4 separate regions of the Homo sapiens genome follow, and all the other regions are linked to region 1. The links come from fine-mapping of genetic effects on plasma protein levels. A gene starts in region 1. Each other region holds a variant in brackets. All regions are shown on one strand. Distances are between the middles of the regions.

Region 1 (8,000 bases):
TTTTTGATAAACATTTACATAACTTAAACCTACATCAACTTGAGTAAAGTTAACATTTCACTGAATAAAACAAAACTTTATAAACATTATTTGTGAAAGATGTCTAAGCAAAGGAATACATTTACAAAATAATGTAGTAGCTGAACATCCAGGTATCCTCAAAATTGTCCTAATGTTTCTCTCTCCCTTTGGGGCCAGAAGCATCAATGTCAGACCTATTCTGCACCTGGGTTAGAACATGTGCTGCAGCAACGAGGCTTCCAGAGGCCTTGGCTCACTGTGGGTTGGAGGCCTCCCATCTGTCCTGCTGGGTTCCCTGCCTCCCAGATAAGGAGGTCTGTGTCCTGACTGTTGATCTAGACAGGAAGCTCTCAGTTACTTGCTTATATCAATATCTCAGCGAGTATCTCTCTTTGGAAACTGCGAGGTCCAGTAGAAAACCTTTCCATTTCTCAGCTCTCACATCCTTCCTCTTCCCACACTACTCTCATTCCCTTTGCCTACCACACAAAAAAACTCTCCCTGTCCTTCATAAAAACAAACAGACCAACATAAACAACAAAATTCACTTGACCCTGTCCCTCTCTTCCAACTTCTTAGAGGTGGAATTTGCACTCTGCCACCTCGAGCTCTGACAGATGTGGCCCCCATCCTCTCTCTTGAAGAACAAACGATACTGTCTTCTGGGCTCCTCCTGAGTCTTCGGTAGATGTGTTCCTCTGTCTCTTCCCTCCTTTTCCTCCAGGACCACAGTGTTGCACAGCTGCAAGGGGGGCACATTTCCCAGCACACTTTGGAGTTGTGCAGTACACAGCCTACACAACCACTGGTGACCGTCCTGGCTTTTGTTCTTCTTTGTGTTTACTTGACCGTGGAGCATTCCAGAATTCTAGCCTATGTGGCCTTTTCCCATTCTTCCCTCTGGGAAATCTCATTTCTTCTGTTCAACCTAATTAATGTACACCGTTAGCCCAATGACTTTCAGAACTGCATGTTTTGCCTCTATCTCCCTCCTGAGCTTATATATTTCTGAGCCCCTACCCCTTCTACCAGAATGCCCATGTAAAACACAACAAAATTCAACAATGTATGAACCTCAAATATCCAAGACAGGTCTCAGTTAATTTAGAAAGTTTATTTTGCCAAGGTTGAGGACACACTCCCATGACACAGCCTCAGGAGGTCCTGATGACATGATAGAGCACAATTCGGTTTTATACATTTTAGGGAGACATGAGACATCAATCAGTTTATGTAAGATGAATATTGATTTGGTCTGGAAGGTGGGACAACTTGAAGCAAAGGAGGACAACTTGAAGTGGGGAGGGGGCTTCTAGGTCATACATAGATAAGAAACAAATGGTTACATTCTTTTGAGTTTCTGATTAGCCTCTCCAAAGGAGGCAATCGGATACAGATATATCTCAGTGAGCAGAGGGGTGACTTTGAGTAGAACGGGAGGAAGGTTGGCCCTAAGCAGTTCCTAGCTTGACCTTTCCCTTTAGCTTAGTGATTTTTGGGGACCCAAGATTTATTTTGCTTTCACACTCTCCATGATTCAATTTTTTTTCTCCTCTTTTTCACTCATTTCACTGTCTTTGTTGCCCATCTAGTTGACAAACGAGGACATTCACCATCCCTTTTTACTCCATAAATACAGAAGCAGAATTGGTCCTTCTAACACCAGACTTGTACTGTCATTCAACTTTTCCCATGTGCAGTAGCTCTCCAACTAGCACAGGGACCACAGCTTTGCTGCCTCAGGTTGCGGCTACTCCCCACAAAGCTACTATTCCATAACACATCCCTTCACTTCATTTATAGAATCTACAGTAGGGTTGAAAGGCAGCACTTAGTGTAGGGAACACTGTTCTAATACTTTAATCAGCATATACCATCTAAGTACAGGCTGTTGTAGGATATCCTGGCTCCACTGACCTTCTAAAACAATTTGTCTGTCCATTTGTTTCTTGAAGGATGACTCCCAAGTCTCCAGGGTACATTATACCCCAGCCAGTGGTGCTGGCCTTTACTCCTCTACCTCCTCAAGCTGTCACCTCCACATTGTCCCTATGTCCATTCTCCTGCTTGGGCTCCATCCACACTCACCTGCCCTTCCTTCCAGAACAGCCTCTTCCAGCCCCTCTCCACAGAACCACACTGGCCTGAGTCAGGAGGTCAGTGACAGCCCACTTTCAGTTTCATTTCTCTCCCCAACAAGTCAACCACTGGGGGAAGTTTGAATGTTGACACACTTCATCTGGGTCCCACTGTGCTTCCCCTCAACAATGCCAGGTGGGGGAAGGTCCAAAAAGTTCAGGCCTGTTCATTACTGCCAAGTGGTCATTCAAAGCCAGTAAGTTATGTCGGTTACAAACAAGCTACAAAAAATTTTGTAACAAAGGTAAAAGTAAGCCCTATTAAGTTGTATTTTATATATACATATATATATTTTAAATTATACAATTTTATATATAAAACTTTATATATAATTTAAATTATAAAATTATGTTTGCTGCCTCAGATTGCAGCTACTCCCTATTATTCCATAACACATCATTTTATGTATATATACAAAATGATATATATATTATATATATATAAAATGAATGGAAATTGGAAGAGCTGAAGGAATTCTATTTTCTTCTTGAACAAGGTGAAATTTTTTATCAGCTGGACACACTTTTTCATGACTGAGCATAAGACATTTTCCATTTCCCCACCCCCATCTTGTTCCTCAAGTTTTCTATTATTTGGACAGCAAAGAAAGCTTTCCACATAAAGAAAATGTCTTTAAATTAAATGTTTAGAATTTCACATTGTAAATACTTTTGTATTTATGACTTTTAGGAAAATCCTCGATCATTAAAACAGCCCTAAGCTTAAAACTTTTTCTAATCAAGGTGGTTTTTAGAGCATGTTCAATTTGCAGTCACTGAGTCCATTTCTTAACCAGTAACTAAGGAAATTAGGAAAGTACAACCTAATGACCCTGGAATAGGATGGAGTCAAATCACACTCACCATACACTGCTTCTGATTACTGAACAGGCTCCCTAAAGATGCTGTGTTCATTACTGGACATTTTTTTGTTTGCAAATTCTAATTCTGAAAGATTTGTTTTACTAAAATCCACGGCACAAAGAGTGAGATTTTCTCAATGGCAGCAGGCTTTTTGGTAAATGATATTAGTTTAGAAACACAATATCTTTATAGTCAGAATGAAATTAAAATTTGGAGGGACAGTTTTGCATTTTTCTAAACTTAAAACCCTGATCAACTGTAACCAATCTTAAAAATAATACAGTTTTCTTATCTATGATTTAGGAAAATATTTTCTGCATTCAGGCTAAAATTTTAAAACATGTAAAAATGGAAAAAATTAAGGAAATTTTAACACTACTACTAATAAGCATTTACTAAGCATGTTGGCCATTTGCAGAGCTAAATATATTATTTACATCATTTCCATGTTATAATGACAATAAACATACATAAGGGCGGTTTAACAAAAACTATTGGTTCTGCTGCTGGGGAGAAATTCATTCAGCTTCCATTTGCCTTAGTTTTCAAAAACTAATTGGCTTTTTCCCATAATTGTTATTGTCATCTTTCATGATATTGCTGACATAAAATGCAATCCTACATCAAGGATTTTTAGCCCCAGAGGAGTAGAGGAGCAATTTTTACAGGCTTTACATATACTTCTCAGCTTTTATACCATTTCTCTACTAGAAGTCACAAACTGAAGGTCCTAGGCAAAAAGCAACCTACAAATATGCATGGTTGGGCTTGTATATTTTTGCCTTTCCATTTCTAAAAATGTAATTAGCTGCTAATATTGAAAAGCTAGGGAATGTCACTTTTGGCTTCCATATTTTCTTGAAACTATGGCCCAAATCCCCAAAGGCCATCAATTAGCTAAGTAACTGGCTGCCCCATTAGCAAGAGCTGCCTCTGCCTTCATTACCATCCCCACACACTCCAAGCTTCAGGCTAGTTGCTATTCATCACACAGTAGTCTGCCTTTCATCTACCCCACTTCCCTCAAATTGTTTACTGGCAGGTTCCCAGAGATATTTAGGTTTGTAATTCCTGTCCTGAATTGCAAACATGATACTAATAGTGAAAACTTCCATAGTGTTTACTAGAGCTAAGCAATTTTCTAGGTACTTAAAATGCATTAATTCATTAAATCTTCAAGATAACCAATAGGGTGAAGAGTGCATCAGTCTGTTTTCACACACTGTGATAAAGAAATACCTGAAACTGGGTAATTTACAAAGAAAAGAGGTTTAATTGGTTCATGGTTCTGCAGGCTGTACAAGAAGTACAGCAACTTTTGCTTGGCTTCTGGGGAGGCCTCAGGAAACTTACAATCATCGCAGAAGGCAAAGGGGGAGTGAGAACTTCACATGGCCAGAGCAAGAGGAAGAGAGACGCAAGAAGAGCTATATACTTTTAAACAACCTGATCTTGTGATACCTCACTCTCGCCATGACAACACCAAGGGAGGTGGTGTTAAACCATGAGAATCCGCCCCCACTATCCAATCACCTCCCACTGCACCCCACCTCCAACATTGGGAGTTACAATTGAACATGAGATTTGGGTGGGGACACAGATCCAAACCATATCAAACACTGTTAGCATCTCCATTTTTACAGATTAGGAAACTGTGACACCAAGAAGTTAAGAATTTGTCCAAGGCAACACATTTTGTAAGTGGTGGCACCAGACTCCCAGACAGGAATCTAGCCAAGGGCCTGAGAATCCACCATTAAGCTTTATTTTTAAACATAGTGGAAGGCTCTGCATGACAACACTGACAACATCACTTCAGTTCTGCTCATTACATTTAGAGGTGTGTGTCTAATGCAAGCTAATCTCTTCTTTGAAACACCTAGGAAACAAAATTTAGGTCGAGTTGTACCTCATGTAGCTCCAAGATACTTCATTAGACAAGCAGCCCCTTCTCCAAGGCTTTGCTGCTATCTACCAAAAAACTGTCATTACAAAAGGACAAATGGCTGGTTCTGAGTCTGAAGGCACTTGCAGAACTGTGCTGTCCACATAGCAATAAGCAGTGCTCCCAAGTTCAAGAATCCTTTCAGTTATTACAGTAAGACGTATTTTGATATCTGCATGCATATAAAATTAATGAAATGCTTTATAGAAATGAAAATCTATGGATAATATGTCATTTTCTATGTAAATACCATCAAATTGGACTTTTTATTACCAAGTCCTCATTTCACGATTATGACTGACAAATGTGTGGCAATGATCCTCTTAAACATTTATATCTCAAAATTCCAGGAATTTTAAGCTATTTCCCTCTGCCCAAGAATGGACTTGAAACACTGCAAGCAGTTTTGTCTTCCATGAACATGACACAACCCACAAAATATTTATTATAGAGCAGGAAACCTCTTTAGTCTGCATCTTTCAGCATTTTTCCTTTTCTTCTTTTATTTTTTCTTAAATTTTTGAATTTGTCGTCTTTTTCTTTCTTTAAAAATAGACCCTAGAAACAGATCCTTTTCTTCTTTTGTGGTGATTTGCCCTTCTAATTATCTAATTATGACTTAATTTAATCTAAATAAATCTAAATGTTTGGGTTTATTATCTGAATATTAAAGATGAGAAGATAGGATTTGAACTCAGACCTGTTTGACTTCCAAATTCTGGTTTGCCCTACTATCCCGTAATGCCTCCTAGATGCCGATTAGTCTAAGCGGCTGCTCCACAAGGCTTTTAAGCATTCAAGAACTCTACTGGACCATTTGAGGGTCTGTTCTGGAGACAGACAGTGCTTCAAGTGCTGAGGGCTCAGGACTTCACCCTCCCAGGAGGTACACACAGTACAAAGCCTAACAATTTGTCAGCACATAATCAATTGAAACCACACTCTAAAGTTAAATTAGTTCCTTCCAAATGGGGCAGACACGTGCTGACCAATTAAGAGGCCCAAAGACTTGGGAGTAGAGGATGAATAGGAATAAATTGAGAAAGTATGCAGGAAAATTATTGAAGGAAGAATGAAGACGAGAATTCTCAATGCTAAGTTCTGGAAGATGCTGGAAGAGAACTGAATCCAAAACAAATATATTTATGTCAACTCATCATTGCTTACATTTTCTAGTCTAACAGAGCAGAACCATGAAATTGTTTGAAAAGTGAAAAGCCTCTTCTAAGTATACAAGCAGGGAGAGCATTAGGAATCGTAAATTAAAAGGACACAGGTCCTAGCAGAGAAGCAATGAAGCATTGGGGAAGAGGGTTTCTGGGGAATTTATGTGAACTTACAGAACTGTGGTCTGCTGTGGTACCTGAGGAATGTGGTCCAGCATCAAGTGCATGCAGCGGACGGTGCTCTTAAAGCAAAGGCACCGGCTGGGGCAGGGCAACCCTGGCAGGCACCACCCGGCCAGGAGAAAGAGAGTGGTCCAGCAGAACAGTCTGGGCTCCATCGCTCCATTCGCTGCTGGCCACGCGAAGAAGCAGCCGGAGGGAGAGCAGCAGCTGCAGCTGCAGCAGCAACCGCAGTGGTGGTGATGGTGGCTGCTGGACTGAGCCAAGTTTGGGAGCCGTGGTGGAAAGCAGCTCCCAGGGAAAGGACACCCCTCTGACCAATCCAGGAGGAGGGATATCACATTACAGGGCTGAGGGCACAAGCAGCTCTAGGAAGCACTAGACTCCCAGAGGCGAGGACGAGAAGCTTTTCAATGCAAAAGCCTCTTTCTAAAACACCGTGTTTTAGGCAGCATAATGCAAACAAACTTTTCCAAAATTACTTCCACTGCGCATTTGATGAAAAACCCGACCTCTTAGCCTCCAGCTGTCCTCTTGAAGCCCAAGTTGATTAAGAATGTATTGAAACAATGCAGAACAGCTTTTCTTCTTTTTTATCTGGTAACATTACCAAACCCTAAAGGGCAGGCAGAGTTCTAATTCGTTCATCTAGGTGCACATATTCTTTCTTTATTCCAAACTATGCTCTTTAATAAAAATTGTTTCATTTCCTTCTATATATTCTGCTGCTGAAACCCAACACATTTCACTCATGTAAGACTCAAACGGGCTACTTCTGATTTCTTCTTTTAACGTTTAAATTTATATGCTTAAAACCATGAACTCACATACCTCCTTCAAGAGGATACAACTGATGGACAAACCTAAGTATGTATATGTAAAGTCAAACAGATGCAAGCTCCCTCAGGACACACTGGCAGCAGTGGTCTTGCTGGTTGCAGACTTTTCATCAGCAGTTTGAACTGGCCATCTTTCCCTGAAGTGAGCAGCACCTCGTTGAGGACGTGTCTGAAAACTTAATAAATATGAAAACATCTACTTTTTGGTCATTCTGTAAGCAGGTATTTTTAAACAGATTTTTGGCTTTATCTTTAAAGACTAACATTTTCAAACAAAAATGTTTTAAATCCATAAAAGTAATAGAAAACAAATTAAAACTTGCATGGTCAATCCCAGATGATCAGACTAGTAGACCAATCTTAAGAGGAAAATAAGTTCATCCTTGTCTCTGCAGAAATGTTTCAGTCCCTTTACATTCTACTGTAGGCGAATACTGCCCTCTTTTGGCAAAATGTTCATATCTAAATATGTGATTTTGGGGAGATTAAAATGTAAAAAGATCTAAAAAACAAAACTAATCTCCATGAACAAGAATGATTTATTTTAAACTTTACATTTGACATTGTTCACATGACTTTTATTGTCCAAGTATACCAATAAAGCCAAAAAACGAAATTTATTCCTTTAAATCCCAACAATCACTATGCTCTTGGCAGTGCCTGTGATTTGGAGGACATAGACAAGACCTGCAGGTTTGTGCCTTGTTTGCAGTTCAAAATATAAAATACAAAAAATATAAATAATATAAAATATATAAAATACAAAAATATAAAAATATCTTGCATTCATAAAGTAGACTTAAAAAGGGTAGGGACTCAGAAATATGTAAGTTCAGGAGGGAGAAAA
Region 2 (8,000 bases), 390 kb before region 1:
TCCACATCCCAGAATTGTTTTGTTGATTTTTGTTTGTTTCATTTCAGAATTTTTTCTCTCAAGTTTTGTGCTTCTAGAGAACAAGGTCAAAGAAATATCAATATGGATCATGTGAATATTAACCCACATGATACTTGACAAGGAGGGATTAAGCAACAACTTTCTGAACTACTATAAGCTGTCATTCCCTGGCAAACGGGCAAAATAATAAGGGACATGCTTGGAGCTCTACCTTTTAACAGGGCTTAAACTTCCAGCATTCTCCCAGTGCTACAAAGATTGTTCACTAATCATACTAAAAGTTACCATCCTTATTTAATCTTCAGAAACTGGCAAGCAATAATGGGACCATTTGCACTTTATCCATGTTAGCCAGTCCCTGGCTGGATCCTGAGATATCTTAATCTTGGGTATCTGGATATTTTGCCTCAGGAAGCTTTGAAAACCCATCATACTGGGTGACCAGGGACAGTCAAATGCCAGTTAGTTAGAGAAATTGTACAGAGCTCTAAGGGCTGAGGCAAGCTCACAGATAGGCCTTCTGCACCACGTCTCGGTTGATTTCCTAAAGGAGAATAAAGAAAGGGTAAGCCAATAGAAATTGATGCTGTACTCACAGCACAAATAGTATATAGCAAAGAATCACATTCACTTATTTCATTTGAAAGAGAACAACTTAGAAAATCTGAAAGCTTTCTATATCATCTCATTTGACATCTACTAACTAGATGTCTGGTTTTAAAAAGAAATACACAAGAACTTGGATATACCAAAAAACAAAACAACAACAACAAAAAAACAAAAATCAAAAGAACTGGGGAGGTATTATAAATATTATAAGTGGTAGAAGAAATTTCAAGTAAATTCACTGAATGATTCAGGTGATTGAAAGGATAAGTGGAAGAATATCCCCCTGGTAATAAAGCATTTCTCTATAAGACACAATAATATCTTTTACATTTGAAACACAAGTTCACTTAATGTAGGTTCCCTAGATTTGTTCTCTATACATATAACTTAAAAGTTGAGACAAGTTTGAATATATATTTATCATCCTTACTTTGGAATTACAGTTCCTATGAGAAACATCTGCATTTATTTGGTAAAAGTAGTGAGTAAATTAATTTCTAAATCCCATGATATTCTGGAGATTAAAAGTTCAGTGTCCTTTGCTAAGGTGGTGGTCAGTTTTTCTGTGGGCAGTAGGCTGAGAATAAAATGGCTTTGTGGCTGACCTTTGCCTTCCAAGTCCACAGTGAGCCCCTGCTTCACACGTTCCCGTATCAGCTGCAGCGTGTGCTCAAAAATCTCCCCTGCTCTTGCCATTTCCACAATCAGTGGGTCACGCGGGTAATGAAATTGAGCCAGCAGGTCACTGGAGGTGTGAGGTTTTCTGCAAATGACAAAACACATGATTCTTTACAAGGCAAAACAGCAGAGTCCATGAAGCTTGCAAATACTGTGCATTTAAAAAGGCATTTCCCAAACATTCGAGAAGAATGAAAGCTCCACCACTACAATAGAGGCTCTACAGAGGAGCTGTGGGTTCTTTTCCTATTTTGCTAACAACTTATTCCAAATGTTAGTCCCAGTGCTGAACTCAAAAATATATATTTTTAATGAATGGATGATTTAAACAATAGTTTTAGGAAACAACATCTATGGTGGGGTTCTAAACTGGGGGGGTCGGTTGATGAATGGATTATAGGAGGCTCAGTAAACCTTCTGAAGTACTATGCAATACTCTCGGTCTGCAGGACTTGGCATTTTGTGTCTTCTCTTTCCCTGAGTGTAATCTCCTAGAAATTCCTCCTTGCCTTTAGAATCCTCCTCAGGCCTCACTCTCCCTGTAGAGTTTCACTGAGAGCTCTGACAAGCTATCACTCCATCTTCTCTAGTACTCCTGTATCCTTAAATATGTGTCTTATATACTCAGTAAAATGTACTTGAATTGCTGACATATTGTCTCCTCTGCTAAAGAAAGAACTAGGTTGCTGATGAGATGTTGACCTATTATTTATCTTGTATCCCAAATACCAAGCCCACTGACCAGCACATAATAGCAGTTTATGCACATTTGTAGAACTGAACCAAATATGTTAAAAAGAAATTTAAAAGCACTGAGAATGTGAAGCAAACTGTTTTAGAGACTTTGATCAACTGAGGCACATCTCATCCTCTATGTCTTGAATCTTAACTACTTGAGGTCACAGAATAATAATAATGATGCTAATAGTTCACTTTGGTTAAGCACTTTCTATTCTCCAGGCACTGTTGAAGCACTTTTTACATATTATCTTATTTTTTCTTCCTAGCAAGCACATCCATGAAGTAGATCCTACTGTTATCCCAACTTTAGAGAGCAAGGAGCCTGAGGTACAAAGATGTTAAGTCACTTGCTCAAGGTCACCCAGACAGAAAGTAATGAAGTGAGGAATCAGGAAGAGAATATAAATCTAAATCGGCTGCGTGGTTCTAGAACACACATGCATGATCACAAAGCCATTCTATTTATGGATGTGCAGGAAGCCAGAAGAGACTCAATTTGGGATTTTACGATGTCCCTTTTTGACCACTAACTGCAAATACTGAATATATACTTTATCCGATTATGATGAAATCAACAATCATTTTTTTGTTAATGCATCCTGATGTTACAAACACAGAGAAGTTAATGGGATTGGAAGGTTTCACTAGTCCATGAACATTCCAATTCAAATTAAAATAATGTAAAATGCCAAATATCCTAAACATAATGTTTGTCGTAGGCTCCCAGTTTATACCAAGGTGTGTTCAACTTGATAATCATTCTCAATTCACACATTGCAGGAGCACTGCATCTGACACTGTTTGGTGGATGCTGAGGTAACCCAGCCCATTGCCTAGTGTCTATTGTCAGCCTGTATAGCATGGACCTTTGGCATAAATTAATGCCATTTAGATTCTATGGGGAAGAAGTTTCCCCTTTTTTAGGGTGAACTGATAATGATGGCTAGCCCAGATGGGGATGCATACACAAGGACTAAAGAAAGCACTCTATTGCATATGCACTATAATGTGACTTATGGAGATGATAAAAACTAAGTAGAACAGAAATGAAAACAAGGTTTCAATCTGTGTAAAATAAATTCTTACTGTGAAAACAAATGTCTTCGTGTGGAGTTAATTGCACTGTCAACTCTCTGTACAGCATCAAGAATGGAAGATTCAACAAAGTCATC[G/A]CCAGCTTGTCTACCCTGTATAGCTTTGAAAATCAATTCCATGATTAAAAATATCAAACAGACCTTGAAGTTAGGCATGATATTATATGAATGGCATTACATTTTTAAATGTAATGCCATTACATTTAAAACCTCTAAGACAATGAAAATGTTATACAATATCTACATGATAATGCCCATTGCAGAGAGGTAGGTAATTATCTTGAAGCAAGGCTTCATCTAACAATAATAATGTTATTTAGGGAATTAAAGTATTCCAAAATCTAGTAAAGCTATGTAAAATATTTCCTTTTGAACAATGCTGATTCACACAGGATCCAAGTATGTCAGCAATTTGTCATCTTGGAGAAGGTATGAAATACCTATCTCTTCAGCCACCTTGCTTTAATGTTAAACATTAAAGCAAAGTAAATATTCTCCCATCCCATAGAGGCTTCTTAAGGCAAGAATTGAACTCTCAATAAGATTTATGGGAAAATTAATTTATGCTTTTTTTATAGCTCTCTAACATGTGAAAATACTGCAAAGTTGAATCCTGTAGACAAAGGAAGCTATTTACTTACAGCTGATCATTTCCAGGCTATTGAATCTTCTTCAAATAATGGTTTAAGAAGTTTAACAGTAAAGGAACAAATACTAAATAAAAATAATTACGAATGAATATTTACAGTTCATATCAGAGAAATAATCAGCACAGTATCTAGTTCATTTTTGAGATACTAAAAGTACAGTAACATTTTATGTGACACAGGCAATGAAAACAATAACTTTTTGGCACTGCTAAATATTGAAAGCAAAAGTCAATATAGCTTTAAATGTTGAGTTTGAAAATAATGTCATTTAGGGGAAGTAAAAGTGATTAAAAACTTGAATAGTAATAGGAAGGTATTGTATGTATTATCCAAAAGAACTCCCAATGAAGTAACTAATATAAGCTTAAGTCAAGGTGTTACCACAATATAGTATGATAGATATATACATATTATATGTATATATCTATATATGTGTTTCTATACATATTTAAGCATATATATTTGACAATAGATGGGCCCATATAGCATTCTCCATCTAGATATTACAGGAAAATTCCTGTATATTATGACCATCTATATAGCCTAGATTTTATTGTCTTAAAAAGACCACCAACATAAAATAATTTTAAGAAAAAAAATACCAATGGTATGGAAATATTGTAAGGAAAGAATAAAATTCAGGACCATACTGAAAATTCTTCTTGGCAAACTAGATTATGTGCAGCAATTCTGAGTAAGTAGGGTGGCTCCACTGTCAAGTCATTGCAGCCTTTATGATGACCACAAGATTGAGGCTCTAAATGGCCAATGTTGCCTTTCCTAGTCCAAAAAATACATGGGATTGATTTAGCTAAAGATAATTGAAAGAAAAAAAGACAAAAATTGATTAATTCAATTGGATGAAATTAACAATTTCAAGAACATGAACAAAATAACTAATAAATGACACAAATAGCTGACAATATTTGCAATCTCAAACTCTGAGGCAGAAATGATATTCTGTTTCATACAAAGAAACGTTATAATACACTAAGAAACAAATATATAGGCAAGTTATAAAAGAGGAAAGCTCAAAAGTTAATAAGGATATAACATGCTCAAAATCACTTGTAACCTCAGAAATGAAAAAGTGTCAATGAACTACCATTTTATGCTTATTCTAGCAAAAAATAAAAAGCTGATTAAAGCCAAATTTTGACAGGAGTGAGAGTTCCTATAAATCCTCAGGCAGACTGATAGGACTGTGGAATTGACACCTATTTTGGGGATTGTATTTAGAGCCTTCTTTGGCGGGGGGGAGATGGCAGTTGTTACTTTGTAATATTGCATATGCACACATCCTCTCATCCAGTAATTTCAATCCCATGCATATATGCAGAAAAATTATAATTGAAATCCACAAGGGTATGTATGAGAATGTTTATTGCAACTTTGTGCAGTAGGAATTGTAGAAAATTGGTTGTACAACAGTGGAAGTATGGGTGTATTAGTCTGTTCTCGCATTGCTATAAAGAACTACCTGAGACTGTGTAATTTACAAAGAAAAGAGGTTTAATTGGCTTACAGTTCCTCGGGCTGTACAGGAAGGATCACTGGGGAGGCCTTAGGAAGCTTACAGTAGTGGTAGATGAAGAGGAAGGAAGCACATGTTACATGGCTGGAACAGGAGAGAGAGCAAAGGGAGAGAGGCTACACAATTTTAAACAACCAGATCTCATGAGAATTCACTCATTATCACAAGAACAGCAAGAGGGAAACTCACCCCAATCACCTCCCACCAGGCCCCTCCTCCAACACTGGGGATTACAACTGGACATGAGATATGGACAGGGACACAAATCTAAACCATACCAGTGTGCAAGGAAAATGTGGTGGATGTTCAACGTGGAATGTCATGCAACAGTTAGAATTGTCTGGGCATACATGGATGGACACTTAAAAGATGCTTAAGGTAAAAATTCGAAAACTAGAAAGAGATAACCATAAAATGATCGAATTAAAATATATAATACTTAGATGTAGTATAGTTGTTACATATATAGCAATGATGATGAAAGCAGAGTATGGACATAAAAGGTAATGAATTAATTAGTTAACCAATTGAGGAATCAATCAATATAATTACTGTGATTATAAGAAAACAATACTATAAACATAGCTACATTAGTCTGCTTATGTGTTCAAAAAAAGTCAGTAGGAATGAGCCTACTTAATTTACTTTTATCTTAGAAATAAAGAAACTAAAATCAATCAAATCAATCTGCACTGGCATGTATGACTTGATTATTTAATCAACATATTAGCTTTTTCTTTGTCCCTTTTACTCCTTCACTTTTGGACCTCAAATATAGAAAGCAGCATTAATTACATGCTTCTGTTTGTGACAAGTATTGTCATTGGGCTACTGCATCTGGGACAAAATATGTTATCAAAGGTCTACGTGGATTTGGAAGTAAGAAGATTGTGTGCTAGGACTGAGTTACCGTACAGGACATAGTGCTATTGAGATGCCAAAACTTAAAAGGCTATTCACAATGGTGGACAGAAGTTGATATAAAGTATAAATTTCAGGAAACCATCATTTAATATGTGAATGTGAATTGGATTGATGTTTTTGCTTTTATTCTGTTTATAAAATTGTTTTGCTGTTATAGTTGTATAAGATTTACAAGCATAGGGATTTTGCAGCACTTGTCTTCATCTGTTAGCTCATCCATTAAATGGAGAGAGAAAGCCTTGCTCAGCACAGAGCTCAGGGCTGATGTGTTTATCAGATAGCAAAGATACGCAAAATTCTTTTAAAACTGCATGTTGCAATGCACATATAAGGTGGCTTTCACGATTAATGTGTTTTAAAACCTATAGGCAATCTGTATCCTCACATGATTATCAATTGATACTGTGTTATACTGTCAATATGATTTGCTATTTATTTATATGAATCAGAAGTCAACCAGTGTGTAAAAGTGAAAAGGAGAAGAAAATTTTAAAAATGGAATTGTATGCAAATATTTTTTGAAATATTTAAGCTCTAAACTACACAAATAGAAAACACATAAAGTTGTTCAGATTCTTAAAAGCACATTAAATACGTGATATAGTCAAACAAAAACATTCTTGATAATAAAGCTTTCTCGTTTTTATGTCAGTTATGATTTTTTAAGTTTATGTGGTTTAAGAGTAAACTAAAACTAACTCTTTTATTATTCATTTGATTTCAGTGTTGTTTTGTTTGATTTGGTACAAACTGCAAAAATATTTTTATAAATTTCTTTAGAACAGCACTGTGTTATGTAAGCAAATCCAATGTGTTGGGGACACATTAGAATTAATCAATACTGTTGTAGTTATTTGTCTCAAAAATCATCTCAGTTAATGGCTTAAGGAATAGAACAATCAGAAAATTCTGAGCATATTCTCCATCTTTTTATGCAAAATTTTACAGGAGTAGAGGGACAACTAGATCATTTTTCTTTGTTAAGTCTCAGGGTAATAAAAATGAGAAAAAGGCTTCAGTATATTTACAAAATAAACATGTTTAAAGTTATTGATGCACATCTATTTGCAATCCTATCCCTGCATCTATGAGGCTATCACTACTATTGATGGTAAAATCCAATGGTAATATTGAGTCCTTTCAGAAAAGGGGGAGCTTAGGCCACGTGGCCACTCACTGCTCTGCATGAAAGGCCTGGCTCTGGGTGACTTGGGGACTGGACCTAGAGATGGGATGCAGAAACAAAACAGCTGTGCTCCTCTGTCACCCTTGCTAAAAAATGCCTAGACCTCAATAAAGGCTGAGATTTTTTCACAATTACCAATTGGGTTTTGAGTATTTTTTATCCTCCCCCTTTTTCCCCCTGGGGAAGAAAATTAGCAGATAATGTAACTATCGTAACCAAATAGGTCTTATCATACTCAGTCTTTCCCTATAAAGAGTGATGCTAAAACTGACACATGTGAGGGCTGTCCCAGGACACCAGAGACAGGTCCACATTACCATACACACTGATGGTAATGACTGCCTTTATGAAATCATTTTGTTTAAACAGCAGAGAATCTGTCTTACTCATCACTTTGCATCATTAAACATGGAAACCAATTCATTGCCCTGGAGAGCTCCACTGTTTTTTCAGAGACTGGAAAAGGAAAGGCACCATCTACTTTGTTTAAGGTTATGGTGCTTAGATTAAGACGTTTTATTTGTTTTCTTTATAATGTTTAAACTATTCAAACACTACAACAC
Region 3 (8,000 bases), 350 kb before region 1:
CAATAGAAAAAAGAAAATGTCTTCAAATATGTCATGTGATCAGAATTTGTTTACAATTATATATAAACAAGGTTATAAAGAGTGTGGAGGTGCTTCTGTATGTTTGTGCCTGTTTGCAAGGAAGCCAGAAATACACACATCTGGTCTGCAAAGCAAAACAGCAGTAGCCAACAAGAAGAAACCATTTCTAAATCTTACGGCAGCTGTTTCCCATGATTGAATCATATTGGTTATCATTTTAGTAGATGTGATAAACATATTTAAAGCTACAAATTGTACTTTAAACTATTAACAAAACCGTCTTCTCCAAACTTTCACATGCACAATAAAATTTGAAACGAGTTGATCTTTCGATTTCAGAAAGAAAAATAAGCTCCTTAAGATTAATGTTCCTGCAACACTTGAAATTATACTTTTGAAAAAGTCATATTTATGTCAAAATTCAGAGTTCCAAATATTCAGATTTTGTATTATTGCTTTTGTATAAATAAGAAATAGCTAATAGCTGCATATGCCATTCCTGAAAAGGGATTCTGTCCGTGACTCTTTGATTGAATAAAAAAATAAATCAATGTGGCCATTTAAGAAGAGCGCAATGATCCCCAGTAACGCCTAAGTGATCAAAAGAACTTTCGCAGATGACTTTGTAACTGGAAAGGTGTCCCAATCCAGATCCCAAAAAAGGATTCTTGGACTTTGTGCAAAAAAGAATATGAGGCAAATCCATACAGTAAAGTGAAAGCAGGTTTATTAGGAAAGTAAAGGAATCAAGAATGGCTACTCCACAGGCAGAGAAGCAGTATAGGCTGCTGGGCTGAGTATACTTACAGTTATTTCTCGATTATGTGCTAAACATGGGGTGGATTATTTACGAGTTTTCTGGAAAGCGGTGGGCAATTCCCAGCACTTAGAGTTCCTCCCCATTTTAGACCATAAAAGGCAACTTCCTGACATTGCCATGGCATTTGTAAACTGTCCTGGTGCTGGTAGGAGTGTTTTGTAACATGCTAATGCATTATAATTAGCATAAAATGAGCAGTGAGAACAACCAGGGGTCACTGTCATCGCCATCTTGCTTTTGGCAGGTTTTTGCCAGCTCCTTTACTGCATCATGTTTTATCAGCAGGGTCTTTGTGCCCTGTATATTGTGCCAACCTCCTATCTCATCCTGTGACTAAAAATACTAAACCTGCTAGGAATCCAGCCCAGCAGGTCTCATCCTCATTTTACCCAGCCCTCATTCAAGATGGAGTCACTCTGGTTCAAATGCCTTTAACAACTTGACAAATCATTTCTCTGCCTTGTTAGATTTTTGCACAATTCCTACTACCCCCTTCTTTTCACCTGCATCTGGAAATACAAGAAACATGATAAAGTAAATAATATTTGGCAAAGTGTATTTGTTGCAAGTTTCATACTGTGTGCAAGTACTAAAGAGTTTTTTAAAGTCTTCATCCATTCTAAGTAAGGTGCTGGACTAAATATGGTATAAAATAAATTTCCAAGTCACACAAATTCATGGAAACCCTCAGGAATGCCTGCAAGCTATTTGTAATAGAGTTCTAGAAAAGTCAAGCTGGAAAACAGCCCACAAATCAGCAATCTCAGGCTCCTCACTGCACAGATGAGAAAATTCAGACTCTGGGAGGTAGGATTGAATTTCTCTCGGTCAGAACTAATAAGTAGAAAAGATAGTAGAGAATCTGGGCCGCTCAACCCCCAGCCTGATGTTCTTTCCAGAACATTACACTAACTCCCAAAATTACTAGGAACAACTTAAAAAGAACAAAAATATTTCTACATTAAAAAATAGATTCATGACACAGTAAAAGAGCTATATAACAAAAGATGGTAGTAGTTAAGAGAAATAATGTAGTCCTGGTTCTAGTGTTGGGAAATTTGATTTCAACTTTTGAATAATAATAACTTTAATAATTATTAACATATTAAAATTTAATTTTATTTTAATTATTAAAAATATTAACATTTAATAACTTTAATAATAATTAAAGTTCACGGTTAGCCAAGTCTGTGTGAAAAGAATTGTTAAACTTCACGTGTTCTCACTTTTAACAGAACCCAAGATCCACATCTTAGCAAAGCATAGAAAACATTTAAGAAAATAGTCAATTTACATTTGTTTCTAACACTAAAATGAGCAGCTTGCTAGGTCGATGAAGAAATTATGAACATCACCAAAGCAGGCAGAGAAGGTGGAATAATTAGACAGGAATGATGAAGCTGACATCTTTGGGCTTTCCATTTAAAATGATGGCCTTCTGAGTCCCACCTCCAGTGCTAAAATAGCACATGCCGAGATGAAGTGTTTTGCTATTTTATTAAAATCTAAAATTCTGGCTACTCATTAAGGTGCTGCCTCACACACAAAGCATTTTGACTTACACTGTTGATGACCATAGGCCTTTTTACCTATATGTCCACACTGTGATTCATATCTTTCATTGAAGCTTTTTTGTGTCATTTTATTTGTGTTATTTTATTTTAGTCAGTCTAAAAAAGGAAGTTTATCTGTGGATAACTGTGATCTCAGTTTAAATAGACATTAAAAGATCAAGAACATGGATAGAAACCTGTTAAAATGACACAAAAGGATACATCTTAAAATGTTTCATCTATGATTAGGCAAATAAAATCAGCCTTTTAAATAAATGTATAGAATGATTAATGGACCGTTTCAAAATCAATTAAAAATCTGGGCACACAGATCCAAAAGTGACACAAGTAGATGGTCACAAATAACAAAGGACAAGCAGATGGCCATTTCAGTGCAAACTCACTGGCAACAAGAAATCATTAGCATATTGTGGTAGAAGAAATAGGCAGGATGGTAAAGGTTACCAGAGTTCTGTTAAGCAATGACTGACGCAGATGGGCAGATGGAAGCATAGAAAGGAAGTACATGGAAAAAGCTGAGAAACAAAAGCCTAGCACAGTGTGGAATACAGGCAACCACTAAAGTGTGAAAGTGATCAGGCGTTAGGTTTCTAAAAAACAGACATTGAACACAAAATGATGTAAGCAAAACAAAACCCAAACACAGTTTCTTTGAAGGTATTTTTCAATCTCAACATATTAAAAGTTTAAAAATAACGTTTGGGTCCTTTAAAAGTAATTTCCCCCAGAAGTTACCAAAGACCTCAAGAAAATATTTCATTTCTGTGCCTTCTTATTAGAGCAAGGAAAGTATTTTTGGGATATTAGCAGTTCTAGGGAAAAACACAATTTTTTTTCCTGAGACATGTAAATAGGAATAAGAAAGTATTGATCTATTGCTATTAAAGGAGTTGATGCTAAACAGTTCAATTTAGAAAACATTCTCTGAATGCAGGAAGACTAGGCTGGAGGAAGCCTTGTGCTTTGTGGGGGCCAAGATCACTCTTGGGGCCACTGGGGCTCACTGTTCTGAAGCCCTCCCAACCCAGGCACTGCACTAGGCTGGCCACTTCCCTTTTTCTCTGTTCTGTGTTTCACACGGTTCAGTGTTTTGGTAGATAACATCCTATGCAAATCTTAAAATAATGAAACTTAACTCAATCAAAATATGCACATATCAGGAAGCCCCTAAAACGGATCATGTAAATTACCGTACTCTCATCAACTGATGAAAAACTAGTTTAGAAAAAACTGGACCTTTGATATGACTCCAATAGCACTTATATTCTGCTGTTTACTAAACTCTAACCCTACAGGAAGATGGCATGCAGGCACACATGCACACACACACAAACGCACACACACAAACACACACACACACACACACATGCACGCACACACACCAGAAAGGGGCCACCCCAGGCTGAGAACCAAAGTACAAAGAAGAATGTGCCTTCTTTATAACACGATTGCATGCCCATGCATATAAATTAATTTCTGGATTCAGAATAGTTTTACTATTGCTGTTGTTACGCAGTCTGGCCTCGTAGGAGCCTTCAGCATGTCCTCAAGCTCTGTTGAGTAGACAGTTTGGTAAGTGACTATGAACACAGGGCACAGCCTTTTCACTTTCATATCTGTACTGTCTTTCCTGTATCTGTGAAATATTCTGAAGCACAAATATCTCTTGACAGTTTCCTTCCAGATTAATGACTCCATCTCTTTTGTTGCTAATGGTTGAGTCTGACCTTTGGATAAAGATTGAAGTAGGAAAGAAAAAAAACAACTTTTAACTTGAAACAGATTAGCTTTGAAAATCTTATTGTGTCAAAAAATAATTGGCAAATAAAAATATTTCTCCACTGATGTACATGACATTATTTAAGTTGAAAAATAATTTTCTGAGTGTGGCAGGAGGAACATTTCAATCATGACCTTCTGCTCCCATACCTTGTACAATTATGTTTGCTGCAGCTTGAACAGTGCCGTGGCTATTGTTGGCATGACAGGTAAATCGACCATGATCCCGTTGTGTGATGTTCTGTAAGTAAAGTCCACTGGACGTTGCCACGTGCCTGGATCCATCCAGCTCCAATCCATTGTCCCTGGTCCAAGTGATAAGAGGGTGTGGGTGGCCTGTGGCCATACATTCCAAAGTTGTGCTGGTGCCA[A/G]TTAAAACCTCTGTGTCCTGAGGCTGGATTACAAAGCTTGGTTTGGCTGATGGTAAAGGGGGAACAAAACGAAATCCAGCAAGTAGCAGTTAGGAAGATTTATTTATTCTGCATTGTGGTTTTAAGATTATTGTCATTTTCAAAATTCCTTTAAACTAAAATATTACACATATATATATATACACATTTAATTCCCAGAAAATTAAATCTAAAATAATGAAATGTGGATTTGCTGTAAGTACATACTTTTTTAAAAAGATTGCTTGCCTTGATATCACGATGTGTTATAGATACTGCAAAGCACCTACACAATACATATTCCTTATTTTAGGGGTTAAATGTTTAAACATTCCTTCTTAAGAATACTCACATTTTTTTAAACACAGTTTAGGCACATGTCACTGGGAATAAATAAAAGTGCTAAGTTTAAGTAGTCATTTCTTCCTCCTGTTTGCTACCTGGAATTCGGGCAGGAATGCCTTTGGGTTACAGGAGCCACTTTGTGATTAAGAGGTGAAAATTATGAGGAATAAAGAAACCTATGTGCAAAGCAGATCAAAAAGCAGAAAGAAGAATATTATTGGCTCACTATAGGTAATGTGGCAGCTCTGTGACAGATTACCCTTGTCCTACTTGTGGCATACAATTAAAATATGCACAGACACAAACACACACACATAGAAGCTATGCATTTAAGCCATATCTAGCCAAGCTTTCAGTTACTTTCAGCTAAACGTATTATAAATTGATTCATCAAGTATACATGTAAATAGAAAATTTAGACTTTCATATAAGGAGTTCCACTCTTACAAATTCATAGGAGTTTCTCTTTTCTGGGAATCTCAAGCAAAAATTAAATATTTGCTAAGGTGTTAAAAATGCCTAATGATTGATTCTAAGTTTGGGGAAGGGGGATCAACCATTCCTGAGATGAACATATTCTGGAAAGTGGAAATAAATTAAATTAATCCAATTCAACAATAAATGTTTAATTTAATTCCTAACAATATCGAATGTCTTAAGTATATTAGTAACATACTGGATGTTGGAAAGATACAGAGATGAACAAACACACTCCTCCTTGTGTGCTCCTACTCTAGCTGCATGAACAGAGGACAGAACACATCATCTGTAAAACCACAACATGCCTCGGAAAGAATTGTCTCAGAGTTAGGTGTAAATGTGATAGGAGAACATTCTGGCAAGAGGTAAGGGAAAAATTAGCCGGGCGCGGTGGCGGGCGCCTGTAGTCCCAGCTACTCGGGAGGCTGAGGCAGGAGAATGGCGTGAACCCGGGAAGCGGAGCTTGCAGTGAGCCGAGATTGCGCCACTGCAGTCCGCAGTCCGGCCTGGGCGACAGAGCGAGACTCCGTCTCAAAAAAAAAAAAAAAAAAGAGGTAAGGGAAAGTATAGGGAAAGTTATTATAATAATTGAAATAAATGTTCCGAGGTAAGTCAGTGGCAGTAGAACTGGAAAAGGAGATAATCTGATGCATGCATGGAACTAAATTTTTAGAGAATTGTGGAAGAAGGAGTAGCACTAGAGGGTGAATCAGAGGTTACTGGAGGAGAGTAATGATACCAATAGAGATAGCAAACACAGGATGCTGTGGGTTTGTGTGGGCAAATGTGTTTGACAGATGTAAAGATTTACATGTGAAGATAAAAACAAAGTCCTGGCAATGTCCATTGAAATCTCAGGAAGGATCTCAGCAATAAAGACTATAAATTTTACATGAAGTATGAAAGCTGAAGGTTTGGGAAGAGCTCAGATGGAAGAGGAAAAAAATGTGATTAGGGCACGGGGGACTAGAGAAAGGGAGGGGAGGACAGCGCTATAAGGAACACCACATTTTAGGCAGGCAAAAGAGATTTAAAAAGAGAATTGAGGACATTAGGAAAGGATCAAGAGGAAGTCGTGTTCTCAAAGTAGAAATGCTCCTGTGTGCAGGGTCAGACTTGACCTAGAGGCAGAAGGGAAGGAGGCTTTGGAAGGAGACAGTGGTGTTTCAATCAGAAATTACTTGGTGTAATCCCAGCACTTTGGGAGGCCTAGGCAGGAGGATCACTTAAGGACAGGAGTTTCAGTCTGCAGTGAGCTATGATCATGCCACTGCACTCCAGCCTGGGTGACAGAGTGAGACCTTGTCTCTACAAACATTTTTTTAAATAAATTACTTGGAAACTATGTGAGGAATTATCATATTCAATCAATCGCTAACTCAAGTGTCTTTTTTTCCTGGAAAACCTCTTGATTCACTGCAATTTCCTCCATTCACTTTGCCACTACCCTATCCATGCCACCACCAACTCTCTTCTGCCCTGTGGCAATTGCCGCTGCTGACTTCCTCATCCTGACATGCCTATCTTACCATGCCCTCCTGTTTGTTCTCTGAACTGCCACCAGAGACATTTTTCTAAAAGAAAAATCTAATTTTAATCATCTCAGTGTAGCGTCATGAATACCCTGAGTGATCTGACCCCACTTTATACCTCACCAAATCTCGTGTCATTCCCAGCCTCTCCTCTGTATGCTCCAGGATCTCCATCTCTTGAATGTGCCTTGCTCTGTCTTCCCTATGCTGTCTTTTCTCCTGAAATGATGCTTCAACCCTACTTCTCTGGCTCTCTCCCACTTGTTGTTGCTTTCAACTTAAAGGTCAATGCTCTTGGGAAGACCTGAATGAATGCAATCCTCCGAGGCTGCTGCTTCAAGTGCTCCCCTCCACTGGGATGGGCTGGAGCCGGCTCTGGAGAGCCAGTTGTCAAATTTTCAGTATTCTGCAAGCTGACTGCTACACAAAGCCATTCTTAAAATTTTAACTAAATAAACTTACAATCAAATAAATTTTATTAGCATCAAAACTAACAAATTCATCCCTATTTTTTACTACATTTTATTATTATCTTCGGTCTCAGGGTTATTATGCCTACTGTGTCTGCACGCTAGAAGTGCTATATTATGATGAACTTCTGTGCATCTCTTCCCAACTCCACATTCAGTGATATCATTTCGGTAACTAGGAATTGGCCATGGTGAGATTATTTATAGAACAGATACTGACAAATGCTGCAAATCAGGGCTCCCTGCTCCTCAGAGCCAATTTACAAACATTTACCAGCACACAACTGTCCTTTATGCTTCTCTCCCTCTCCTTACACATCATAAAACTTATTTCTTGAATTATGGCTATCATCTAATAGATGATGGGCTCAGTAAGGTGAGAGACAATGTATTTCCACCATGTCAACATGCTATTAATGAAAATTTGTTGCAGTCATTATGTCTGGTTTATATAAGCCACTGAAATTATGACAAAGCAAAGCCCCTGGAAAGTTGAATAAGGAACGTGGTTGATAACCATGCAATCTTCAACAGCTAGCTCAGTGGGCATTCAATAAATATGTGTTGGATTAATTCATGATGAATGAATG
Region 4 (8,000 bases), 420 kb before region 1:
AAGATTAGTTAGCATACATTCTGGGGTAAGTAATCTACAGTAATAAATCATGCTTTTAATTTCTGATTGAGAAATTAAAGATTAACTTTCCATTCAATCCACATATTCCTAAGGATTCCCTGAGTTTTCTAGCCACCAATCTAGACTAAAAAACGACTAATTAACAGCCCCTGATTTAAAGAGCATAGGCCAGTCAGAAGGCATAAACAGATATTTAAAACATAAACTACGTTTTTATACCATGTGATATGGTTTGGCTGTGTCCTTGCCCAAATCTCATCTTGAATTGTAGCTCCCATAATTCCCATGTGTTGTGGAGGGGATCTGGTGGAAGATAACTGAATCATAGGGTGGTTTCCCCATACTGTTCTCCTGGTACTGAGTAAGTCTCACAAGAGCTAATGGTTTTATAAGGGGTTTCTCCTTTCACTTGGCTCTCATTCTCTCTTGCCTGCCACCAGGTAAGACATGCCTTTCACCTTCCACCATGATTGTGAGGCCTCCCAGCCGAGTGGAACTGTAAGTTCATTAAACCTCTTTTTCTTTATAAATTACCCAATCTCCAGTATGTGTTTATCAAGCAGCATGAAAATGGACTAATAGACCATGGTATTGATATAAAAGCAGATAACGAATAAAAGAATAGCTCTCCATTGGTGGAATTCAAGACATTTAACAGAAATGTTGGGTGATTCATTCTTTTTTTTTTTTGACATAAGACTCTTGCTCTGTCACCCAGGCTAGAGTGCAGTGGCGTGATCTCAGCTCACCACAACCTCTGCCTCCCAGGTTCAAGCAATTCTTCTGCCTCAGCCTCCGGAGTAGCTGGGACTACAGGCACGTGCCACCATGCCCGGCTAATTTTTGTATTTTTAGTAGAGATGGGGTTTCACCATATCGGCCAGGCTGGTCTCGAACTCCTGACCTCGTGATCCGCCTGCCTCGGCCTCCCAAAGTGCTGGGATTACAGGCGTGAGCCACTGTGCCCGGCCAGGTGATTTATTCTAAGCTTCAGAAATCACACCCCTATGTCATGATACTGGCAGTAGTAAGATAGATAGATGACTGATAGAAAAAGAGATAAAGATAGATACAGAGAGATGACAGAGAATTAGAAGCAAGTGATAGATGACTGATAAAGAGAGGTAGAGATGATATAGATAGATAAGAGATAAAGAGAGATAATAGAAATAGATAATATATATATAGGTAGTTAAGTGGATAAATAGATGATAGATGGAAACGTCGTCTCTACTAAAAATACAAAAATTAGCCAAGCATGGTGGCACGCACCTGTAGTCCCAGCTACTAGGGAGGCTGAGGCAGAAAAATTGCTTGAACCCAGGAGGTGGAGGTTGTAGTGAGCCAAGATAGCACCACTGCACTCCAGCCTGAGTGACAGATGACAGAGCAAGACTTCATCTTGAAAAAAAAAAAAAGAAAGAGTCTTTTCTACATGTCAGCCAAGTGACAAGCATTTTATTTCTATTATTCTATTTAATCAACTGTATACACTTGATTTATAAATTTCATTTATGTCCTCAAAACTGCAAAACTATTTTGGCTTGATGCTCTGACTTTTTTTCCAGTCTTATGAAGTCCATTACGATGTGAGAGCTTCTCCACTCAAATCTGATTTCCCACTGTTCTACTCTTTCACAGTCAGAGATGAACTAAGCTTATCCTTCATTCAGCAAAGGAAGCCTATAGTTAAGACCTCCTCAACTGTCCACAACAAACCATGCCACTGCATAGATCTCATAATTACCACCCACTCTTACAATTCTCCCTTTTAGACAACATTCTAAACTGATGAAAATTATGCAGTTATAAAAATGAGCAGTCTTCATTTCGTTTCTCCAGCTCATAAGTCCCAATAGGGCCTGCTGCACTGAAATTTAAAAGCAATGTTAACTATGGTAATAGAGCCATGTTTTGTTTCCAGGTGGGCATGCTCCAGTGAGGGGCTATAAGGAGGTCTCATTTTGTATGCCAGGTCCCATCAAGTAGAGTAACTGCTGGCTGTCATGAGAGCCATGTCTAGAAGAAGTCAGAGATTGCCTCTATGTTCGGTAGGAAAAAATCCTGAGAGAGTTTAGTAGTGTTTGTCACAGATGCAGTAGGGGAGACTGGTCTCACAATTGCTAGATTTTTGCCGGTTCTAAGCCAGTGAGTGCTTCATCATTCACTACAGTATCAGTTGCATACCTTTTATTAAGGAAATAGGTGGAATAAAGTAGATATAATACATATTTATGAATTAACGTAATTACTAATTGAATGAATACATGAATATTACGGTAAAAAGATGTTTCTATTTCAAAACCGCTAAAAATGTTTTTGTTGTTTTTATTTTCACCTTAAATATGTTTTCAAGTTTTACCAAATGTCATTTTGGTATACTCTGAGATGACTGAATGGGTTTTATAACTGTATATTCTAATATAATGCCCTATATTGATACTAACTCAGTTTTATATTCTGGACTTATATTAATTATTCCTCCTTAATCATGTTGCACTATTCTTAAACTATTCATGATTTGACTGACAAGCATTTTTTAATGTTATTCCCTGTAAAAAATGACTTCAGGGTTAACATTACAGATCCTTTCTTAAGGTTTATACCAGAGGCATGCTAATTTCAGCTAATAAATCAAGTAGGTTATCATCTTTTTATATATTCCATAATACTGTATAATGTGCTCTTTAAAATTTGAAATATTTTGTCTAGCTAGAACTCAGAAACTATTAAAAGTAATTTTTCAATGATTTCAAATTGATGTAGGCTCTGTTTTGATATTGGCTTTCTTATTATTCGAAGACCAAATAGAAAATTATTCAATTACTATTATTTTCAAGCTATCTTTATAAAAACACAAACAGTAACTTCTTAGAAATCTGGTTTTTTTATGTTTTTGTAACTTAACTTTCAGTTTGGGAATATATTAATCAGTCTTTTTTTCAACTTTTTACTTTATTAACTTTCGCTTTTCTATTTATTCTTTCCAACTTGAGTTAGACACTTAATGTAAGTGAAAAATATCTGCTATGCTCATCCTGTGAGATTTTTGGTTGTTGATTACCATAATCTCGCATATCTAGACTGATACAGGTTTCAAATACATACATTCTACTTCCTAAGTGAGATGTTCTGCAGATGAGTACATTGGTACTGGTTCTGTTCATTAAATGTGAGGACTCAAGTCTTTCTTCAATTTTATAACTCTTCTATTGCTAACCCTTCAAACTGGGTCTCTCTCTCTCATTCCTGTTTTCTACCTCTTGGAACTTCTATAAATATTTGATGTTTTCAATCTTTTCTCCCTATCTCTAAATCTCCCTTATTATTTATTATTCTCATCTGTCTGTA[C/T]TACACACTGAGTGAATTCTTCAGATTTATCTTCCAGTTCACTATTTTTTTAATTCAGCTATTTCTAGTATGCTGTTTCACTAGCTACTGAGATCTTAATTTAAATTATATATATCATGTCTTGAAATTCAGTTTTTCAAATACCTGTATTTTTACCTTTTCCTTTTAACATGGTTTCTATTCATTCTCTTACTTAATTTAATGTTAAATGCACAGAGTCTCTCCTATTGTTTTAATCTCCCTAAGTTCCATTTTAATTTTGTTTTGTTTTGTTGCTTTTCATTTATTCTCATTGCTGACTATCTTGCAGCTACATATTTGCTGAAATGAATTTTAACTTGCATGTGTGAGAAGGAGAGAACTTCTTGGGAGTTTGGTTTGTCATTCCCGTGATTGTCTGTATGCACCAGGTCGTAAAAGAATGCCTAGAGAGTGATTTGACATGTGCTTGTGCGAGGATTTCAGGGGTTTCATGTGCCCCTGGGCTGTTTTTCATGTTAATTTATCTTCTTTTCTTTCCAGCACCATGATGTTTGAGTAAATTCAGATTCTTTTCCTGTGTAACACAGGCTGGGATTCGAATTTCAAAAATTTTCCTGTTTCATTTCAGCCTCGGTCCCTGATGTTTACTTGAGAAACCATATTGCTGCTTCCTCTTTCCTGATGGGAAGGCATTTTCTAGTTCCCTTCATCCTTGCAGAGATGAGGCAGGATTTCAGGCTTTCTGCAGAGAACTCTGTTTCAGGCCTCTGACTAGGTGGATTCTGTATCCCCTTACCCTGTGTGGGTACTAAAACCTCAACTTCTGATCCCTCAGAGCAATGTCTATGACTGATAATCATGGGCCAAGAAAGCACATTCATTCCTGATTTCTCCCTGGCTTTTAAGTTTCCTTGTCCTTTGTGACATATAAGAATTGCCCATTTGTTTGAGCTTCTTTATGTTTAAAGCCATTCTTTATAGTTTTACTTTTTGTTCAATGGTTCTATGTATTTTTTAGCAAAAAGGAAGCTCATTTTACTGAACTTATTATTTGCCAAGAAATTCTCAAACTGCCAGTGAAAAGAGGCTATTAGTCAAATGCCTTATAAAACACATCATTCTCTGTTTAAAGTAGCTTTTATGTCACATTTCCCCATAATGGAACAGGCAAGAAAAACAAAGAAAAGGTTTTAATATTATATATAGCACAAATGTTTATATATTTTAATTCATTTTCAATTATTATTTCAGGTAATTAAAAATACAAAATAAGCTAATGACTTCACTGGCTATGGAAGCCATGCCCCCCCCACCAAAAAAAAATTCCATTCTAGCTAAAAAATGTTATGAAGTACCAATCATTGTTAATGAGAAAATGAGGATATAGGCCAAACTATCCAAATGTTGCAAAGAACATCTGGCATTATGCAAAATGAAAGTAAATGTTGACTCAATTCACTCTTTAAAAACATTCTAAACTGATTCAAACTAGTTTTTGTCTGCCTTAGGCTCATAAGTATTTGCAAAGGAGAATATTTTAGAGCCATTTAAAAGCATTCAGTAAGTTTCCTGTGGCAACCAATGAATAATATGCCCAGGGAAGTGGAAACTCAGATAGATCATGCAATTTGCCTAAGATCACAAAGTTAATTACTAGGAACCCAAAAAAGCACCTAGGTAGTATTTTCAGCACATTTTCTGAAATTCTCCGCCTTCTCCATATTAATTCTGGATGAAATAAGTACAAATATTAATTCATAAATATCTTTATTATAATTTATAAAGCCTTTAAAATATTTTCTGGGTATTCTATAAATTTGCATGATAACAGTTATGGCTCTCTTCACACAAAAACATAAAGCACATTGACTGCTTTCCTCATTTCTAGCCAAGAAGTGATGTGGATTCAGGTTCTCTGAGGATCGCTATTTGTTTAATGAGGTGACAAGCCGACCTCACTAAATGGCATAAAGCACAGATTTTCTTTTTTTTTTATTTTATTATTATTATACTTTAAGTTTTAGGGTACATGTGCACAATGTGCAGGTTAGTTACATATGTATACATGTGCCATGCTGGTGTGCTGCACCCATTAACTCGTCATTTAGCATTAGGTATATGTCCTAATGCTATCCCTCCCCCCTCCTCCGACCCCACAACAGTCCCCAGAGTGTGATGTTCCCCTTCCTGTGTCCATGTGTTCTCACTGTTCAATTCCCACCTATGAGTGAGAACATGCGGTGTTTGGTTTTTTGTCCTTGCGATAGTTTACTGAGAATGATGATTTCCAATTTCATCCATGTCCTTACAAAGGACATGAACTCATCATTTGTTATGGCTGCATAGTATTCCATGGTGTATATGTGCCACATTTTCTTAATCCAGTCTATGTTGGACATTTGGGTTGGTTCCAAGTCTTTGATATTGTGAATAGTGCCGCAATAAACATATGTGTGCGTGTGTCTTTATAGCAGCATGATTTATAGTCCTTTGGGTATATACCCAGTAATGGGATGGCTGGGTCAAATGGTATTTCTAGTTCTAGATCCCTGAGGAATTGCCACACTGACTTCCACAATGGTTGAACTAGTTTACAGTCCCACCAACAGTGTAAAAGTGTTCCTATTTCTCCACATCCTCTCCAGCACCTGTTGTTTCCTGACTTTTTAATGATCGTCATTCTAACTGGTGTGAGATGGTATCTCATTGTGGTTTTGATTTGCATTTCTCTGATGGCAAGTGATGGTGAGCATTTTTTCATGTGTTTTTTGGCTACATAAATGTCTTCTTTTGAGAAGTGTCTGTTCGTGTCCTTCACCCACTTTTTGATGGGGTTGTTTGTTTTTTTCTTGTAAATTTGAGTTCATTGTAGATTCTGGATATTGGCCCTCTGTCAGATGAGCAGGTTGCGAAAATTTTCTCCCATTTTGTATGTTGCCTGTTCACTCTGATGGTAGTTTCTTTTGCTGTGCAGAAGCTCTTTAGTTTAATTAGATCCCATTTGTCAATTTTGGCTTTTGTTGCCATTGCTTTTGGTGTTTTAGACATGAAGTCCTTGCCCATGCCTATGTCCTGAATGGTAATGCCTAGGTTTTCTTCTAGGATTTTTATGGTTTTAGGTCTAATGTTTAAGTCTTTAATCCATCTTGAATTAATTTTTGTATAAGGTGTAAGGAAGGGATCCACTTTCAGCTTTCTACATATGACTAGCCAGTTTTCCCAGCACCATTTATGAAATAGGGAATCCTTTCCCCATTGCTTGTTTTTCTCAGGCTTGTCAAAGATCAGATAGTTGTAGATATGTGACGTTATTTCTAAGGGCTCTGTTCTGTTCCATTGATCTATATCTCTGTTTTGGTACCAGTACCATGCTGTTTTGGTTACTGTGGCCTTGTAGTATAGTTTGAAGTCAGGTAGTGTGATGCCTCCAGCTTTGTTCTTTTGGCTTAGGATTGACTTGGTGATGTGGGCTCTTTTTTGGTTCCATATGAACTTTAAAATAGTTTTTTCCACTTCTGTGAAGAAAGTCATTGGTAGCTTGATGGGGATGGCGTTGAATCTATAAATTACCTTGAGCAGTATGGCCATTTTCACGATATTGATTCTTCCTATCCATGAGCATGGAATGTTCTTCCATTTCTTTGTATCCTCTTTTATTTCATTGAGCAGTGGTTTATAGTTCTCCTTGAAGAGGTCCTTCACGTCCCTTGTAAGTTGGATTTCTAGGTATTTTATTCTCTTTGAAGCAATTGTGAATGGGAGTTCACTCATGATTTGGCTCTCTGTTTGTCTGTTATTGGTGTACAAGAATGTTTGTGATTTTTGTACATTGATTTTGTATCCTGAGACTTCACTGAAGTTGCTTATCAGCTTAAGGATATTTTGGGCTGAGACAATGGGGTTTTCTAGATATACAATCATGTCATCTGCAAACAGGAACAATTTGACTTCCTCTTTTCCTAATTGAATACCCTTTATTTCCTTCTCCTGCCTAATTGCCCTGGCCAGAACTTCCAACACTATGTTGAATAGGAGTGGTGAGAGAGGGCATACCTGTCTTGAAAGCACAGATTTTCAACAGCAACAGTGGTGCCATTTCTATTGTGAGGTTAGGAGAAATTGATTGGCATAAAAATTAATATCAAAATTCCTCAATTTTAATGTAAAGAGAAGATTAGAGAGTACACTATTGGGAGTAGTCTCACTTACAGCCATTTGAAAATATATTTCCTGAGCAAAAGAAAATACTGAGTTACATGTCACTGACCATGAATTTTACTTAATTTAAAGCCAGTCTCCTGTGTTTTCATTCTGAAGTATACATTTTATGTGAATGTCATGCCGCTCTGAAATGAAAAGGAAAGAATTGCTACCTATAGAAAGACAGGTTTCCACCTTTACTTAGAGAATGTTTTTTCTTTAATTTTCCTGAATTTTAATTTCCTAAATTTCCATAATTGGAGACCAATGCAGATTCACTTACACATGGCACTCAGATGTGTGCATAGACTTAGCATCCAGGCAGTCTGCTAAGTTCTTGACATACTTTAAATTATTTCATCTTCTCAGTAAACTGATGAGACACATACAATGATCGTCATATTCGGGATGAGAAGTATGAGACTAAGAACAAGTACAAAAGGCTC

Direction of the effects. Alleles are on the strand shown, and positions count from the first base shown. The strength of an association depends on the size of the effect and on how common the allele is.
For the plasma level of the protein whose gene starts at base 6,573 in region 1, G is the high allele of the variant in region 2 and A is the other (moderate association).
For the plasma level of the protein whose gene starts at base 6,573 in region 1, G is the low allele of the variant in region 3 and A is the other (strong association).
As copies of T replace C in region 4, the plasma level of the protein whose gene starts at base 6,573 in region 1 goes down (weak association).

What was found. A credible set is the group of variants that fine-mapping cannot tell apart. PIP is the posterior inclusion probability: the model's chance that the variant is causal. Protein levels are from antibody-based Olink assays in UK Biobank. Linkage for the fine-mapping came from a reference panel and not from the study's own genotypes, which makes the PIPs less certain.
Region 2: its variant is the best candidate, but not a certain one, in a credible set for the plasma level of the PXDNL protein (UK Biobank, PIP 0.74). The variant lies in the coding sequence of PXDNL. If it changes the protein, the assay may bind it differently, which can mimic a change of level.
Region 3: its variant is the best candidate, but not a certain one, in a credible set for the plasma level of the PXDNL protein (UK Biobank, PIP 0.78). The variant lies in the coding sequence of PXDNL. If it changes the protein, the assay may bind it differently, which can mimic a change of level.
Region 4: its variant is the best candidate, but not a certain one, in a credible set for the plasma level of the PXDNL protein (UK Biobank, PIP 0.89).

Annotation. Positions count from the first base shown.
Region 1 is chr8:51,802,873-51,810,872 of GRCh38, forward strand. It overlaps PXDNL (peroxidasin like), which reads right to left and starts at 6,573. Exons shown (of 23, transcript NM_144651.5): 1 at 6,309-6,573. The coding sequence starts at 6,472. RefSeq lists enhancers at 5,946-6,468, 6,469-6,990.
Region 2 is chr8:51,410,015-51,418,014 of GRCh38, forward strand. PXDNL (peroxidasin like) reads right to left here. Exons shown (of 23, transcript NM_144651.5): 15 at 3,136-3,244; 16 at 1,236-1,393. Among named protein-coding and RNA genes, the nearest start is that of PXDNL, 400 kb to the right of the region's middle. The variant G/A (reference allele first, on the strand shown) is at 3,222.
Region 3 is chr8:51,449,175-51,457,174 of GRCh38, forward strand. PXDNL (peroxidasin like) reads right to left here. Exons shown (of 23, transcript NM_144651.5): 10 at 4,345-4,611. Among named protein-coding and RNA genes, the nearest start is that of PXDNL, 360 kb to the right of the region's middle. The variant A/G (reference allele first, on the strand shown) is at 4,566.
Region 4 is chr8:51,385,399-51,393,398 of GRCh38, forward strand. The region is part of intron 17 of PXDNL (peroxidasin like); the gene reads right to left. Among named protein-coding and RNA genes, the nearest start is that of PXDNL, 420 kb to the right of the region's middle. The variant C/T (reference allele first, on the strand shown) is at 3,373.